Linked DNA regions of Homo sapiens: all the other regions are reported to be linked to region 1. Evidence: microRNA targets listed by miRTarBase, many of them from high-throughput screens and not tested one by one. Region 1 holds a microRNA gene; each other region holds the end of a gene's coding sequence.

Region 1 (4,328 bases):
TGCAATGTGGATGTGGCAGAGGCAATCAGGTATGTGGGGTTAGAAGAAGCTGTCCTGGTCATTCTGTTGCCACCCTCTCACTTGGAGAATTGCTGATCCAATGAATTCCTTAACATAACTTTGAAAACACAGCGTTTTGCTCAGAACTTCATGAATAAACATCAAATTTTCACTAAACAAAATAATTAAAGACCATAAGATCTTAGTTATAATACTTCATAAATGGAAAAGCACTTTATTGCCTGTATGTATGTGGGCTCCTCTTTTAGCAAGATATGAGCTAGGTGAAGTCTATGTGAAAGCTAAAGCAGATTTATTCCAGTCAGATGCCAGACAATTTTACCAGTTTAACTGAGACTCATTATTACTTAAACTACATGCTTGTTTTTTTGGTTACTGAGTAGTATAGGTCCCACTTGGATCAGCAATTCTCAAAGTGAGAGGGTGGCAATAGAATTATTTAAGTAATTATTTGTTATTTGAGGTTGTTTGCTTAGTATTTACTTGTCACTGTTTTACATGTTATTTAATAATTTACAGTTATTTAAAAGTGGTAAGATTCCAAGGCAAGTAGGGGACCTGTCACTTTGAGAAAAATTTATGGTGGTAAAAATATTTTCTTTTTGTAAAGAGTCACTGATATACAATGTCCCCCCAGGGTGTAAGCCTTGGTATTTATCTATTTTAATTAAAGAGTACTCTGCCTGTCTAGTCGTGGCTAACTTAAAAGAAGTGGGTATCTTGGTGAGAAGTTCACAAGGTTGGTAGCCATAGCTGAGTTTGGTGGATTGACTCAAGCTCTAGTCAGCAGTGGTATATGAATGCCAAGTACTAAGAATTTCTGGAATGTAGAATTGCACAGCACTGATAAAGTTTGCTTTGTTCCCCTGTGTGACTTGACCCATTGAGAAAACTGGTTCCCTAGGAAGTTTTAATAGTTCAAAGTCCTTAGTTAATAAAGAAAAAGGCCACAACATAATTCAGCTTGTTTTCACCTGCTGACTCAAAGATTAACTTTTTTAACCTTAATGGGATAGAGTTACCCTTTGCTTTGAGAAAGTAATTTATGGAGTTCTTCATATTTGTTAGTTTCAGTAAACATGATGCTTTTTGTGTGGATTTTATTTTTGTTTCGGGTTTGAGATCACAAACTACTAAGACTTACACAATTTAAGAACCTTACGGTAACTTCATCTAAAAACAAATCTCAGGGAAAGGCACACCCACTTTTCTGTATCAACTTAATCTTTCACTAGATTCAGAATGGTTTTGAATTACTTCAGGAAAGTAGTGACTGATAGAGCTTAACCTTCAGTTTTCCTCATTTATTTTCATAAGAGAATGGGAGTGGAATTCAAAACATTCAAATTTGGAGTTAATGTGCGTCACTGTTGTGAGTGATAGGTTCTGTGTTTTTCCAGTGGGAAACTTTGATCCACATACTGATATATGCCTGTGTTATACCTCGTTATTCTTTTCTGTTTTTCTCCTGATTGTTGCTTACTCTTTCAAAAATCAGCTGACTGTACAAGTCCTCTCTGGGAGCAGACTTTAGAGCAAAAGTGATCTATAAAAGCAGCATGTAAGTCTTTTTTTTTTTTGTCAGAGTTTATAACTTTCCAAGTAGACCTTTTATATTTTCACGGTAGTCTAAGTTCACTCAACTGCAGTATTTGATGTTAAATGTACGCTTTACGCTGTTAAGATAATTTAGTTTCTGTGTTTGGTCACTTTTGCTTAAAGGATTGTAATTACATAATGCATGTTGAAATCATATTAAGTAACCTGGCCACTTGCCTATTTACTTCTTGTGGCTAACAATAATGAATGAAACCATTTATATATGTTGTTTTAGTATATCACAAAATTTTATAGAAACTAGAAGCTCGGTGATGAATAATAGACATCCATGAGCCTTCTTATTTGTTTTGAATTTGAGACATTTTCTAGAATATTGCTGTTTGAATGAGGCTTCAGTACTTTACAGAATCGTTGCCTGCACATCTTGGAAACACTTGCTGGGATTACTTCTTCAGGTTAACCCAACAGAAGGCTAAAGAAGGTATATTGCTGTTGACAGTGAGCGACTGTAAACATCCTCGACTGGAAGCTGTGAAGCCACAGATGGGCTTTCAGTCGGATGTTTGCAGCTGCCTACTGCCTCGGACTTCAAGGGGCTACTTTAGGAGCAATTATCTTGTTTACTAAAACTGAATACCTTGCTATCTCTTTGATACATTTTTACAAAGCTGAATTAAAATGGTATAAATTAAATCACTTTAAAACCATGTCTGTACATTTTTAGAGGGCTTCAGCAGGGCATTGAGGAGGTGCTCTGTGTATGCATAGAATTTGCAATATCAAAAAGAAAGTATTCGTAAGAGAAATGAGGAAATGTGTTACAGTATTTTTATTTTTTTTAAAAGCGTAGTAGGGCAATATTTCCCAGAAAAATCTATGAAGTGATTTGTTTTGTCCTGCCCTTTCTGCAGTTTCAAAATAGGTGTTTTTTAGACCCATTCACAAAAAAAAAATCCATTAATGAAACCACAATTATTTGGGGGAAAAAAGTAAGATGAAGGGTTAGTTATTTTCACATTACTTGGATTAAACCCCTTTTATTTCCTTATAGGCTTAGTGTTTAAGTAATAAAGTAGCAGCTCTCAGCTTAATAAAGTGTCTAAAACAAACAAATACTGATTCAACTAACTCTATTATTTGAAAAACCTATTCTTGTTTCAGATGATTAGAATAGTATTTTAGGAATTTGTGGATACTGTTTCCATTTGGTTGAACTTTTAACTTAGCTTTATGCAATAACTCATATCTCTTAAAAATAATAAATACATCAAATTCTATCCTAAATATATGAAGACAATTTTAAGATTCAGAATCCTGTAGAAGATTTCTGTGATGGACATAATTTCTAATTTTCCTTTTTTGTAAATGCGTATTTTTCTTATGGCGGATATTTTTAATATTATACACTTAAATAGAAATATTTAAGTGTATAAGAGAAATATTTAAGTGTATAATAGAAATATTAAGGATACACTTATATAGAAACTAGACACTTTAAAAAGATATGAAAGTGATATCTTTTGTCCTCTAAAACACAGTATTTTATAAATATATAGTGTTTCCATTAATGTAAAAGAGTTTCTTTTCCCTGTTTAATACCCATTGATGATGATGATAAAGAAGTGATACTAAAACAGTATGATCATACCACTATTTAAAATAGTAGCATTTCTTCTAATACCTGGGATGGAGAGAAATATGTGTTAGAAATGTCTTTAAGTTTCCCTCATACATAAAGCTATCAAAACTCTATTAGTCATGCTGGGCCATGAGAGGTTCATCAACTGCCACTGAAATGCAAGGGGCTTGGAGAGGCCTCTGCCAGGCCCTGGGTCTGGAACTGAGAATGTGGTCTATTTTAATTGGTAAGCTGAAAACCCCTGGAGCAAATAACTCGGCTGTTTTTCTGGGGTCACCCGACCGTATTTCCTAGGTAAATGACTATAGGTTTGAAGAAATGGTTAAACTTTTCCTAAATCTTTGACCTTCACTTTCTTTAGGTTCTCTTCCTATGTTATTTTATATCCTCTTCCTTACCTTACTGCCCCTAAATTTTCCATTTTTCATTTTTATCTGTTCATTTTGTTCATGTAAATAATTAGTTATGGGAACTTTTTAATTTGTAAAAATTACAGCATTTTTAATTATTTTTAAATCAACAAATACAAACCTCCATAAGCCATTCCGGGTAGTTTCAAAATTAATACCTAGTATTTCTTATGTCTTGTGCCCCACATTTCCACAGTAATAATGTAAACTACTATTTTAAAGTAACATCAACAGTCCAGGCACGGTGGCTTACGCCTGTAATCCCAGCACTTTAGGAGGCTGAGGCAGGTGGATCACTTGAGGTCAGGAGTTTGAGATCAATCTGAACAACATGGTGAAACCCTGTCTCCATTAAAAATACAAAAATTAGCTGGGTGTGGTGGCACGTGCCTGTAATCCCAGCTACTGAGGTGGCTGAGAATTGCTTGAACCTGAGAGGGAGAGGTTGTGGTGAGCCAAAATGGTGCCACTGAACTCCAGCCTGGGCGACAGAGCGAGCCTACCATCTCAAAAAAAATATATCTATATATATATATAGATATACATATAAATAAATAAAATAACATCAACAGTGTGTTATTCATAATTGAAATAAGATCTGGATGCAATTTTTTATTTTACAAAAAAAATAACTTCTAAAGTTTACAGTATTATGTTTCTACCACTACGTGGACAGAGTTACCATGCATGTGCTTAGG
Region 2 (3,000 bases), not on the chromosome of region 1:
GTATGTGAAATGTAAAATGTAAAATGTAAAATGTTTTGTCTACAAGCAATCGTAGTGCACTGTGGAAACTCACTGCTTCCCTGTTAGGTAATGCAAGTCTAAAGACTACTCCAGTTTATCCTCTCTGCCTCCTTATCTTCTCAATGATTGTTTCATTTCTAAATGCCCATTCCTTTTCAGTCGTACCATATGTCCTCATCTCCCTTTAGTTTTCTTTTTGCTATTAATAGTTTTAGCTTTTCAGTCTAATGTCTGATGCTGATGTCCTCTATTTAGCAGGGATGGTGAGAGAAGGTCAGCTAAATGGCTCATCTGCAGCACACAGTGAAATAAGAGGTATACTGTTTCCTATTCTACTATTTATCACTCTGTAGCAGAAAGTCTTTCTAGGTCCTTGGTTAAGAATATAGAGAATGTTACTTTGGACCTCACATTGCCAAATTTTAAAAAACACTGTAGAGAATGATTTTCCTCTCCTACCCATTAAGGATTCTATCTTTTCCTATCAAGTCTATTACAATCTAGTGCAGTGATCAGTTAATTTTTTGAAAAAAGTACTGCTGGGTGTGGTGGCTCAGGCCTGTAATCCCAGCACTTTGGGAGGCTGAGGCAGGAGGATTGCTTGAGCCCAGGAGTTTGAGACCAGCCTGAGCAACATAGCAAGATGCTGTTTCTACAAAAAAAATTTTTTTAAATTGCTAGGTCTGGTGCTGTGTGCCTATAGTCCCGGCTACTGGCTGAGGTAGGAGGATTGCTTGAGCCCAGTGAGCTGATTGTGCCACTGCATTTGAGCCTGGGTGACAAAGACCTTGTCTCTAAAAAGTAAATAAAATTTTAAATAAATTACAAGATTCCTAGAATCTCCTGTCTTGCCTTCTGAAGGGTTAGGATTGACTTAAGTATCTGCAGCTTCCAATGTATAAACCTGTTTTGTGAAACTTCATTTTGTTCTCTTTTCTTTCTCCCTACAGGCTGTAGTACATGAGCGAGCTAGAGAAATCACCACCGTTTAGACCAAGCTGTAAGGCCCTACTACAGACAGTGTTTAACAAGTAAACTTACAAGAACCCAACACAATTCCCAGAAAGTAACAATAGCCAGAGGTTGAAGGGCGGGGTAGAAGAGGGGGGAATGTTGCAGCGTAATCCTTCATACCACCTGGTTCTTGATATTCTGCCGCCTGTTCAAGTTCAAGAATAAAAGCGACAGCAGGACCCAAATGCAGCTCCCAACCCACTCCCCAGGCTAGACATGCTTGTGTCCACACAGCACACCAATGTGATACTTCCACTGACCGGCTGCAGCTCTGCATGAAGGACTCGGGGTCTGGATGCCATGGAATCACTGTGGCTCTTGTTGCAGTTTTGTACTCTATACTTGGTTTTTCAATTAAGCTTAATGGCTTTTTTAAAACATGACTTGAAGCTCTAGTTTTCTAGATCTTTTACAGTGTACAGTATTTTACATAACTAAGCTGTATTAAAAGCTTGTTCATTTACTTGCCAGGACCCTGGCTCTACTTTTAGAGTCATTGTAAGAAACTCTAACTTGCATCAAGGTACTAATAAGCTTAATTTTAATAACCCAAAGTTTAAAGGTTCCGATCTTTCTCCTTGGGGTGGAGTGATCTCATTCTCAGGACAACCGTTTACTTACCTGATTCCTCGGAGCATTATCAACTTCTGCTCTGTTGTCCTGACCATACATATGTCCTAGAACTACAGTTAAGTGTGTTGTGGAATTTTAGTTTTGAATCCTGTATAAAAGAACTCCAAGACCTAAAAGGCAATTTATTTATGAAATTTATTTTCTTATATAAATTACTTATTTCTCTGGGCAGACAGCCTTCACCTTATTGCACTAATAGCACATCTGTAATATCAAGCTACAGGACAAGTCTTAACAAGAGGTTTGTGTTCTTCAATGTAGCACTTGTCTACCAGGCACTGTAGAGGGGAGTGATGAGGAAAAGCCAGGACTGCTTAGGAGGTGAAGGATGGGAGGGGAGGGGGTCATCATACATCCTTCTGACAATTGGTTTCCTCCCAGGAAGGGGAACATGCAGAGCTTACTTCTGGATTCTGGGAGTGGGAAGAGTTGGGAGGCCAAGAAGCCCAATGCAACGCTGCAGCTGAGCTCCTTTTATTTCTGAGGGAAGCAAGGACTCATCTTTTGCTCATTTGTAACAAATCACTCCAGCCTAGCTGATGCTTTGGGGTAAACAATGGAGTAGGAGTCATCATCAGAATTAGAATTAGCAGCAATTAACAGGCAATACACTGCCACAGTGAGGCGGGTGTCATCCAGGTCCTGGGGACCTGCAGGCTGTGTATCCTAGGGAGAGGTGCCATTCAAGACCTGGCGCTGGCTCTGGAAGAGTCTCTTAACCTAATGCAGCTGGGACTCATTAGGCTCAGACGGCTCTTGACCACACTAATTATTAGCAAAGCTCTGGTGTTGGGTTCCAACCATTGGTCAAAGCTGTAATAAGACTGAGTCTGTAGGCAGAGTGAAGGGGGTGCCTGAGTAGGAAGGGGGAGGCCCGCTGGGAGAGGGTCAGTGGGCAGTGATTGTAACATGATTAGGCCTTCCTTGCAGATGGCGGCTGTGCTGAACGGGGAGTGGGGTTGGAAGGAGCCACAAGCCCCCTCACTCTGCCTTTGTACTACACTGAAGACAGGTTGCTCACATACTCTAAAGCACATTCTTGATACAGGAAGAAGGGCTTGTGGGGAAAGCGGCGATTTGGTATTGGGCAAGAGCCACGTTAAGCCTTCATGAGGGCAGCCACCACAGCCTTGGCATTGAGGCTGCGTAGGTCACAGTAGGTCTGGCCGGTGCCCACAAAGACGATGGGTTTGCTTGTGATGTACGTCATAGAAATAGCAGCTCCCACCTAAGTGGAGAAAGAGGACAGCCCATCAACACAAGCCCACTTTTCACTCACCCTCTCAGGAACAGGAAGCGCTGGAGCCAAGATTTCCTTGCAGCCTCAGCTCC
Region 3 (3,000 bases), not on the chromosome of region 1:
CTGGGGAGACTGAGGCACGAGAATTGCTTGAACCTGGAAGATGGAGGTTGCAGTGAGCCATGATTGCTGCCACTGCACTGCAATCTGGGCAAGAGAGTGAGACCCTGTCTCGAAATTAAAAAAAAAAGTTTGAAAATCACACTATGCAATTAGCATGAAGTGTAAGGAAGCCCAAAAGAAAACACCTGCATTTGCTGTAGAGAAATTTTGTATGTATGCCTGTTAATTTTCAGGTAATTCATAGTAGGATTCATTAAAGCAAGTATATTAGTCTTTGTTATATGTTAGGTGTATTTTTGATTCTCAACAGGAATTCTAATTTGTTTTTCTTTTCTCTGAATACAGTGGATAAGTGGTTCCATCACCAGAAAAACTAATGAGATTTCTCTGGAATACAAGCTGATATTGCTACATCGTGTTCATCTGGATGTATTAGAAGTAAAAGTAGTAGCTTTTCAAAGCTTTAAATTTGTAGAACTCATCTAACTAAAGTAAATTCTGCTGTGACTAATCCAATATACTCAGAATGTTATCCATCTAAAGCATTTTTCATATCTCAACTAAGATAACTTTTAGCACATGCTTAAATATCAAAGCAGTTGTCATTTGGAAGTCACTTGTGAATAGATGTGCAAGGGGAGCACATATTGGATGTATATGTTACCATATGTTAGGAAATAAAATTATTTTGCTGAAACTTGGCTTAGGATATTTTTATTTTAATCTGAAGCCAACATTAAGTAGGTATGGGTATTTTTTGGTGTTTGTTTTCTGTTGATAGTCTTATAATTCAAATTTATAATTATTAGACGAAGAAATCGCTTATATTTATAGTACTCTTGATACTATGCTCTAGTACATAAGTCCTAGCATACCATTCTAAAGCAAAAGTTTTTAAATTTATATCATATTAGCAGAAAGCACAATGTTGCTCACCCTTTGAAGTTATATATTAATAGTTATTTTTTTACTTCTTCAGTCAACTAATTGGACGCTTAAGTCATTTATATTATATTCTAAGTTATCAGCTGAACAAACCAGTTTGAATGCCAGCCCATCTTCTTACTAGCTCTGTAATCTTAAGTCAGTTTACCAACCACTCAACTTCAGTTCCTTCATCTGTGAAACAGACATTATTCATGTAATGGCATGTAGTATGCATTCAGATTCTTTTTTTTTTTTTTGAAACAGGGTCTCACTGTCGCCCAGGCTGGAGTGCAGTGGTGTGATCTCGGCCCACTTCAACCTCTGCCTCCTGGGTTCAAGTGATTCTCCTGCCTCAGCCTCCCAAGTAGCTGGGAGTACAGGCATGCACCACAATGCCTGACTAATTCTGGTATTTTTAGTAGAGACGGGGTTCACCACGTTGGCCGGGCTGCTCTCGAACTCCTGTCCTCAAGTGATCCACCCACCTCAGCCTCCCAAAGTGCTGGGATTAGAGGTGTGAGCCACTGTGCCCAGCCCATTCAGATTTTTTTAATGAAAATTTTATTGAGATGAATATAGATTCACATGTAGTTCTAAAAAAGTAATTCAGAGATAATTCAAATAATTCTGTATACCTTACCCTGTTTCTCCTAAAAGTAAGATTTTGTAAAACTATAGTATAACAACCAGGACATTGACTTTGATATAATCCACCAATCATATACAGACTCCAAATCCACCAATCATATTCAGACTTCCTAGTTTCACTGTATTAATGAATATTTGTATGATGTATTCTATATAATTTATAATTCTATAGTGTAATCACCTAGGTAAGTTTATGTATCCTATAAGATATTGAACAGTTTCAACACCACAAGATCTCTCGTGTTGCCCTTTTATAATCACACCCACCTCCCCCCTGTCTTCTGCACACCACCATCCGTAACCCCTGGCAACCACTAATCTGTCCTCCATTTTTCTATGATTTTGTCATTTCAAGAATATTATATAAATGGAATCATACAGTATGTAACCTTTCAGGATTGGCTTTTCACTCAGTGTAATTCCCCGGTATTCCTTCAAGTTGCCACATATATCAATGTTTCATTCTTTTTATTCATTCCTTTTTATTGCTGAGTACTTTCCATGATATGTTTTGTTTTACCTGTTGAAGGACATCTGGGCTGATCCAGTGTTTGGCTATTACAGATACAGCTGCAATGAACATATTTGTACATGTTTTCACGTCAACATAAAACATTTTCATTTCTCTCAGATCTCTAGCAGTGTAATTGCTGAGTCACATGATAGATGCATGTTTTATTAGAAGGTACCAAATTTTCTAGAGTTATGGTCACATTTTACATTCCCAACAGCAATGTTGGAGTGATTCAATTTTTCCACATCCTTGCCAGCATTTGGTTTGCCTTTTTTTTTTTTTTTTTGAGACAGGGTCTCACTGTCACCCAGGCTGGAATGCAGTGGCACAATCTTGGCTTACTGCAACCTCCACCTCCCAGGCTCAAGCAATCCTCCTGCCTCAGTTTCCCAAGTAGCTGGGAATACAGTTGTGTGCCATAATGCCCAGCTAATTTTTGTAGAGATGAGGTTTCACCATGTTGCCCAGGCTGGTCTCGAACTCCTGGGCTCAAGTGACCCGCCCGCCTCGGCCTTCCAAAGTGCTGCTGGAATTACAAGTGTGAGCTGCCCTGCCTGGCCTACTATATTTTATTTTAGCCATTCTGTTGGGTGTGTAGTAGTATCTCATGGTAGTTTTAATTTGCATTTCTCTAATAGCTAATGATGTTAAACATCTTTTCATGTGCTTGTTTGCCACCTGTATATCCTGTTTGGTGAAATGTCTGTTCATGTCATTTACTCATTTTAAAATTGTTTAGTTTCATTTTTAATGTTAAGTTTTGGAGTCCTTCAGAGTTCAGATATTTGGTTTGCAAACATTTTTTTCCCAGTTGGCAACTTGTTCTTTCATTTTTTTCACATACTCTTTCACAGAGCAAAATCTTTTAATTTTTAAAAAGACCAACTTACCACATTTTCCTTTTATGGTCA
Region 4 (3,000 bases), not on the chromosome of region 1:
TAATCCCTACAGTATAAGCCTCTTTCTCAGTACCTCTGGCTTTTCTGCTTGTACTTGACTCTCCTTTGGATCTAGGAAGGAATTCCTGGCATCTTTCTGAGGATGAGCTCGGAGGTATCCTGCTCTTAGTTGACACTCAATATTCCTGGCCAGTGAATCCATGGGGAGCTGCTACAGGGCATGGCTCCTAACGGTGTTTCTTCCTGCTTTGTCTCAGATCTTGATGCCCGGCCTTGGGACTTCCAGGCAGAGGAGTGTGCCCTTCGTGCCAACATTGAACGCTTCAACGCCCGGCGCTATGACCGGGCCCACAGCAACCCTGACTTCCTGCCAGTGGACAACTGCCTGCAGAGTGTCCTGGGCCAACGGGTGGACCTCCCTGAGGACTTTCAGATGAACTATGACCTCTGGTTAGAAAGGGAGGTCTTCTCCAAGCCCATTTCCTGGGAAGAGCTGCTGCAGTGAGGCTGTTGGTTAGGGGACTGAAATGGAGAGAAAAGATGATCTGAAGGTACCTGTGGGACTGTCCTAGTTCATTGCTGCAGTGCTCCCATCCCCCACCAGGTGGCAGCACAGCCCCACTGTGTCTTCCGCAGTCTGTCCTGGGCTTGGGTGAGCCCAGCTTGACCTCCCCTTGGTTCCCAGGGTCCTGCTCCGAAGCAGTCATCTCTGCCTGAGATCCATTCTTCCTTTACTTCCCCCACCCTCCTCTCTTGGATATGGTTGGTTTTGGCTCATTTCACAATCAGCCCAAGGCTGGGAAAGCTGGAATGGGATGGGAACCCCTCCGCCGTGCATCTGAATTTCAGGGGTCATGCTGATGCCTCTCGAGACATACAAATCCTTGCTTTGTCAGCTTGCAAAGGAGGAGAGTTTAGGATTAGGGCCAGGGCCAGAAAGTCGGTATCTTGGTTGTGCTCTGGGGTGGGGGTGGGGTGTTTCTGATGTTATTCCAGCCTCCTGCTACATTATATCCAGAAGTAATTGCGGAGGCTCCTTCAGCTGCCTCAGCACTTTGATTTTGGACAGGGACAAGGTAGGAAGAGAAGCTTCCCTTAACCAGAGGGGCCATTTTTCCTTTTGGCTTTCGAGGGCCTGTAAATATCTATATATAATTCTGTGTGTATTCTGTGTCATGTTGGGGTTTTTAATGTGATTGTGTATTCTGTTTACATTAAAAAGAAGCAAAAATAATTCCCGTTGGCTTGTCTACAGGAAATATGGCCTCTACGTATCTCCTCCAGGTCTAGAAAGTGGTTTTTTCTGCTAGCATTGCTGGTCAACGCTTGTCCTTGTCAAGCTGCCTGCCTTTCCCATCCTGGGGGAAGAGGAGAGAGAGTTGGCATTTATCCAGTGTAAGTTAACCCCACAGTAATCTGGGATTGCTCTAGCCCAACTCCAGGGCACTAGGTTACTTTACTGACACATTGTCCTGCACCCCTGGGTTTGCTGTAATTTCAGTAGGAGCCCCAGGTTTCTCTGGATCACATCACTGAGCTGGCCTCAGCCAAACCAGTGTCAGTGCTATGGAGGGAGGGGCTAGGTCAAAGCAAGGGGGTCTGCTGCTCTAGGTCCTCCCTGGGGCAGGTGGTTGGGACTGAGGGGAAACTTCAGTACTCAGAGCCTAGGAAGCAGACCATCAGGAGTCAGGTTCACGGTGGGAAAAAGTGTTGGAGGGCCCAGGAGCCCCCTGTGGCTGAGAGAAAAGCAAGGAAAATCTTTGTAGTAGGTGTCAGTGGACACCTGGCGCCTCCACTTTGGCCTCCAGACCCCTGGTTTCATCTGCCTGAGAAGATATTAGTGTTTTGATGCTGGTGAAAGGAGTGTTTCCTTTTTAGAATTCCTGGAAGCTCTTATTTTACCTGTAGGCAGTTGTTTTGTAGGTTGTTAAATCTCCAAGGGGTCTTGACTTGTAAAGGAAACATGTTCTGGGGAGCATCTCCCCTTCTTTGGGTCTTGTGTTCATGCCTGCCTGGCCTGGGACCTGCTGAGCCTCAGGACAGGCCTTTTGATGTGCCAGCATGGTTAGGGACAGCAGGGGTGGAAGGCAGCAGTGTACTCCTGATGGTCACACAGCTGTGAGATGGGAAGTCCCATCTGTGACTGATGGGCCCTGTGCCCCAAAGTAACTTGTACAGGACAAGGGAATTGACACAATTTATGTGTGGATGATGGATTTTCTGCTATTTCTTTCCAGGACTGACAGGAAATATGTATCTTGAGATTTCAATTAGGGAGAGATGGATTTTTCACATTCTTACTCTCCCATGAAGCCTGAGTCACTGAAACTGCGTGGTCGAGGCCTGTCTCTCCTCTGACCTGCAAAAGAGAATGCAGGACTATCAAAGCTGCAAGGGCCATAAAGCCTGGGCAGGCAAATCCTTTCAGCTGTAGGCCCAGGAGCCAGCCTGGGGAGAGGAAGGGGCTTCTCACAGCCACAGAGTGTATTAGTGGCAGGTTGGCCATTTGAACTCAGGTCTTTGTACAGAAATGTCTTTTGGAGCCACACAGTTTTTGTGGCTTTTTAAATCTCATATGGGTCATGAAATGGGCAGAGTACATGAAGACCCTTTGTACTTTGATTGAGTTACATAAAATGTTGTTTATTGCTAAGCAGGGTCAGGGTCCACTGCTCCTTCAATCCACCGAGGGACAGATTACCCTGAGGCAGTATCACTCTAAGGATGGGAGCTGTCCCTTGTTAATCGTAAGAGTTACCACTTATGGGTTGCCAAGTAGGTACCAGGCACAATATTAGATGCTTCTCAAAGCCTTATTTTCTACAAAGCCAGCAAATGCTGAGTACTTACAATGTGCCAGCCAGCGTTCTAACCACTTGATGTATAATATCTTACATATTCCTTGTGATATCCTGAAAGATACATGCCATTTTAATCCCTATTTTGCACAGGAGAAAACTGTGGCACAGAAAGGATAAAGAACTTGCCCAAGGTCATATAAAGGCAAGAGCCAGGATTCAAATCCAGGCCTCTGTCTCAG
Region 5 (3,000 bases), not on the chromosome of region 1:
AGTCTCAAGGGTCAGAAAATTAGATTATATTCCTAAGGCTAGCATTAATCAGCATTGAAACTATACATCATTTCACTGATCTTTGCCTGTTTCCTTAAAGTAAAACAAGGGAGTGGGATTAAAGTCATTCCATGTTCTAACTTAAACAGAAATCCTATGATTAATTTTCACTCTTCACATATTTTCATTTGTTGTTACTTCAAAGCCAATCATCCTAAAACTCACTTTAAAACTGTGCTTAGAAATCAGAGTTCATAAATCTCTTATTTTTTTCCCTGGGGTATGTAATTCATGTTACACTACATCTTGTTTCAACTCTTTGATAGTGAAATCTATTTTTTTTAAGTTCCATTTAGCTGGAACATCAGATGTTTCATCTATAATATTTTTTCAATCACACATGTAAAGATAACCTATCAGATATTAATAAAAGCAGACAACTGCTTACAAAAAACCTCAGTATCCTCTTCCCTCCATACCCAAATTATAGAACACGAGCATTTCCAATGCAAGAGTATACTTCTAAACAGTAAGAGTATACTTGCTGTAATTTGGCTCAAAATTAATATTGCCGCTTCACCACTGTGAAGCTCAACATCTTCCTCATATTTGTACTCTACTCTTCACAAGACTTGTCTAAGTAGTCTTTAGTTGGATATGCTTTTAATTTTTAATGCTTGTTGCTTTCTTGGATTTGTAGAATGTCTGTTTTAAAGAACTTCAAAATTTTGCTCAAAACTTGTCATTCTGTTTCAGGAGAGCACAGAATGGGGATTCAACACCTCGGCAATGCCCTTTTAGTGTGCGAGCAACCACGGGAACTTCTGAAAGTTTTCAAACACACTCTCCCTCCCAAGGTATTTGAGATGCTGTTGCACAAAATTCCCCTTATTTGCCAGGTGAGCACATATTTAATTATCTTTGTGAAATGTACACAGTAAATAGCTATGTTATGCTTGACTACACAGAAATATCAAAGTATGTGTGTGAATTGCCCAAAATCTTAAATAAGTGAAATCTCTGAATTTTTGGCTGCTTTAACACGAAGCAAGCCTATTCTTCATTTTCCTTTGACTATAATAAATTGTATATTTTCTTGTATTATCCGTATTTCAACAGTTCAATTTTAAAGCAGAACATTGCTTCTACTTCCATTAACATACAAAACATAGAAATCACTTTGGTAAATTTAAACATACAGGCTAATTAGCATTCTCTTAAATATAGGTTTAAAATGGTATCAAATGAAATCCATTCATAAGCCAGTTGATTAGTAAGTTTTAGTCCACTTCCATTTTACTAAACTGCTTGGTGTATGTATGCATCAACTAGAATTTCCTGCAAATGCTTGGATTCATTTCAGGATTCATTAGGCATAAGACATTAACTTTGGTTCCCTTTTTATCATTGGCAAGCCTTGGAATCTATCATATTTGACTGTCAGCTTTTGAACAAAACACAAACATGAACTCCATTACAGTATAACAGTCAACTCTTAAACATTCCCAAACTAGGGCAGATGGGATTGTTTCCTGAAGATATACGAAAATGTAGGTAAGATATGTGGCCAGGCGCGGTGGCTCACGCCTGTAATCCTAGCACTTTGGGAGGCTGAGGCAGGCGGATCACCTGAGGTCAGAAGTTCGAGACCAGCCTGGCCAATGTGGTGAAACCCCATTTCTACTAAAAATACAAAAGTTAGCCGGGCATGGTGGCACACACCTGTAATCCCAGCTACTTGGGAGGCTGAAGCAGCAGAATTGCTTGAACTGGGGAGGTGGAGGTTGCAGTGAGCTGAGATTGTGCCGTTGCACTCCATCCTGGGTGACGAAAGCAAAACTCCGTCTCAAAAAAAAAAAAAAAGAAAAGTATATGTAATGCCCACCCTGACACAAGGGAGGCAAGAAAAGGATCATGCATTGAAATGATTAGCAAGTAACTATTTTATGTATTCACCAGCAATTTGAGGCAGACATGAATGAACAGGACTGCTTGGAGGATGATCCTGATTGAAAAACATTTCAACGTATCCACAGTCCAGTGAGAATACTATGGTACCATACAGTATAAACAACTGCTCAGTGATATTTCCATTTATTTTACTTTGAGTAATAAAAATTTTTCTATCTCATACATGATCGAACACATAAGTTGCTTTAAAATTAACAGTCACAATTGAAGAAACAATGGTTTATTTTTCTAATCAAGTGACCAAGCTGCTGAATCATAAGGCCTCAACAAATGTTGCATCTTATTATTTCACTGAACAATAAGACCTTCTATTGTGATTATTCCTGGTAAATAGCAATTTTGTTTCTCCAGCGGTTTCCATTTGCCAAACAGTCATGACAGATGGTTGAACATGGTGGCTACTGCTTTCAGGGGATTCTATCAGATGAGTCCTCATTTCCAATAAAGCAGCTGTTGGCAATCTTTCATCAAAAGTTCATCCATCAGGACTTCTCTATCGTGGTTGGCCAAGGAGTCCTGCTTTGGCTGCCAGGGCTTCATTCTGCTGAATATGATATTCCTGAAATCTCATGGATATTCTTTGTGTCATTTTTAAATATTTCTGTAAGCAATGTTCTGAACAGGTGGTCTAGGAATGAAAAGGGAAGATCCAAGAGGCAACACAAAAATATGAATTTTTTAAAATGCATGTATTCTAAAAGAATCAGTGGGGTAGTTTGCTTTTCTTTGAATATATCTGAGAATTAAATAGTACTAATTGGCAGCAACTGACCATAGCTTTTAATTGATACTTTCATTCACTGACAAGCATTAATATATATTGAATGCCTGCCAGTTTGTAGTCACTAAGAGCAATGATAAGTCTCTGTTTTCAAAAAGCTTCTGGACTAGATTTTCTGCAAGTGTATTAAGTGAAAGCCCACATTCCTGTCTTCTTGTTTCGATTATTAAAATGTAGACCCAGTAGTAAGTTTGTTCCTTTTTAATGAGAAAACAACATTCTTAATTCTCAACCTTTTACTTATTTTA

What was found. Region 1 holds the annotated microRNA hsa-miR-30a-5p (UGUAAACAUCCUCGACUGGAAG, at 2,089-2,110, shown strand). A microRNA usually pairs through its seed, bases 2 to 8, with sites in the 3' UTR of a target mRNA and lowers its output. Matches are read on the target gene's strand: a 7mer-m8 pairs with bases 2 to 8, a 7mer-A1 pairs with bases 2 to 7 and ends in A, and an 8mer does both.
Region 2: miRTarBase lists SRPRA as a target of hsa-miR-30a-5p. Seed matches in the 3' UTR shown: 7mer-m8 at 2,218-2,224.
Region 3: miRTarBase lists PPA1 as a target of hsa-miR-30a-5p. The part of its 3' UTR that is shown has no 7-base or 8-base seed match.
Region 4: miRTarBase lists STRIP1 as a target of hsa-miR-30a-5p. Seed matches in the 3' UTR shown: 8mer at 1,167-1,174.
Region 5: the mRNA of TIMM9 is a reported target of hsa-miR-30a-5p. The part of its 3' UTR that is shown has no 7-base or 8-base seed match.

The regions. Positions count from the first base shown.
Region 1 is chr6:71,401,377-71,405,704 of GRCh38, reverse strand. MIR30A (microRNA 30a) reads left to right here and starts at 2,084; the gene lies at 2,084-2,154. RefSeq lists an enhancer at 3,088-3,616.
Region 2 is chr11:126,261,149-126,264,148 of GRCh38, forward strand. SRPRA (SRP receptor subunit alpha) reads right to left here. Exons shown (of 14, transcript NM_003139.4): 14 at 1,790-2,896. The coding sequence ends at 2,768. FAM118B (family with sequence similarity 118 member B) reads left to right here. Exons shown (of 9, transcript NM_024556.4): 8 at 277-336; 9 at 972-1,820. The coding sequence ends at 985. Among named protein-coding and RNA genes, the nearest start is that of SRPRA, 6.2 kb to the right of the region's middle.
Region 3 is chr10:70,200,532-70,203,531 of GRCh38, reverse strand. It overlaps PPA1 (inorganic pyrophosphatase 1), which reads left to right. Exons shown (of 11, transcript NM_021129.4): 11 at 346-697. The coding sequence ends at 377. Among named protein-coding and RNA genes, the nearest start is that of PPA1, 31 kb to the left of the region's middle.
Region 4 is chr1:110,053,448-110,056,447 of GRCh38, forward strand. STRIP1 (striatin interacting protein 1) reads left to right here. Exons shown (of 21, transcript NM_033088.4): 21 at 218-1,194. The coding sequence ends at 465. Among named protein-coding and RNA genes, the nearest start is that of ALX3, 16 kb to the right of the region's middle.
Region 5 is chr14:58,406,570-58,409,569 of GRCh38, forward strand. It overlaps TIMM9 (translocase of inner mitochondrial membrane 9), which reads right to left. Exons shown (of 6, transcript NM_012460.4): 6 at 1,926-2,599. The coding sequence ends at 2,465. It overlaps TOMM20L (translocase of outer mitochondrial membrane 20 like), which reads left to right. Exons shown (of 5, transcript NM_207377.3): 4 at 757-899; 5 at 1,960-2,133. The coding sequence ends at 2,013. Among named protein-coding and RNA genes, the nearest start is that of TOMM20L, 12 kb to the left of the region's middle.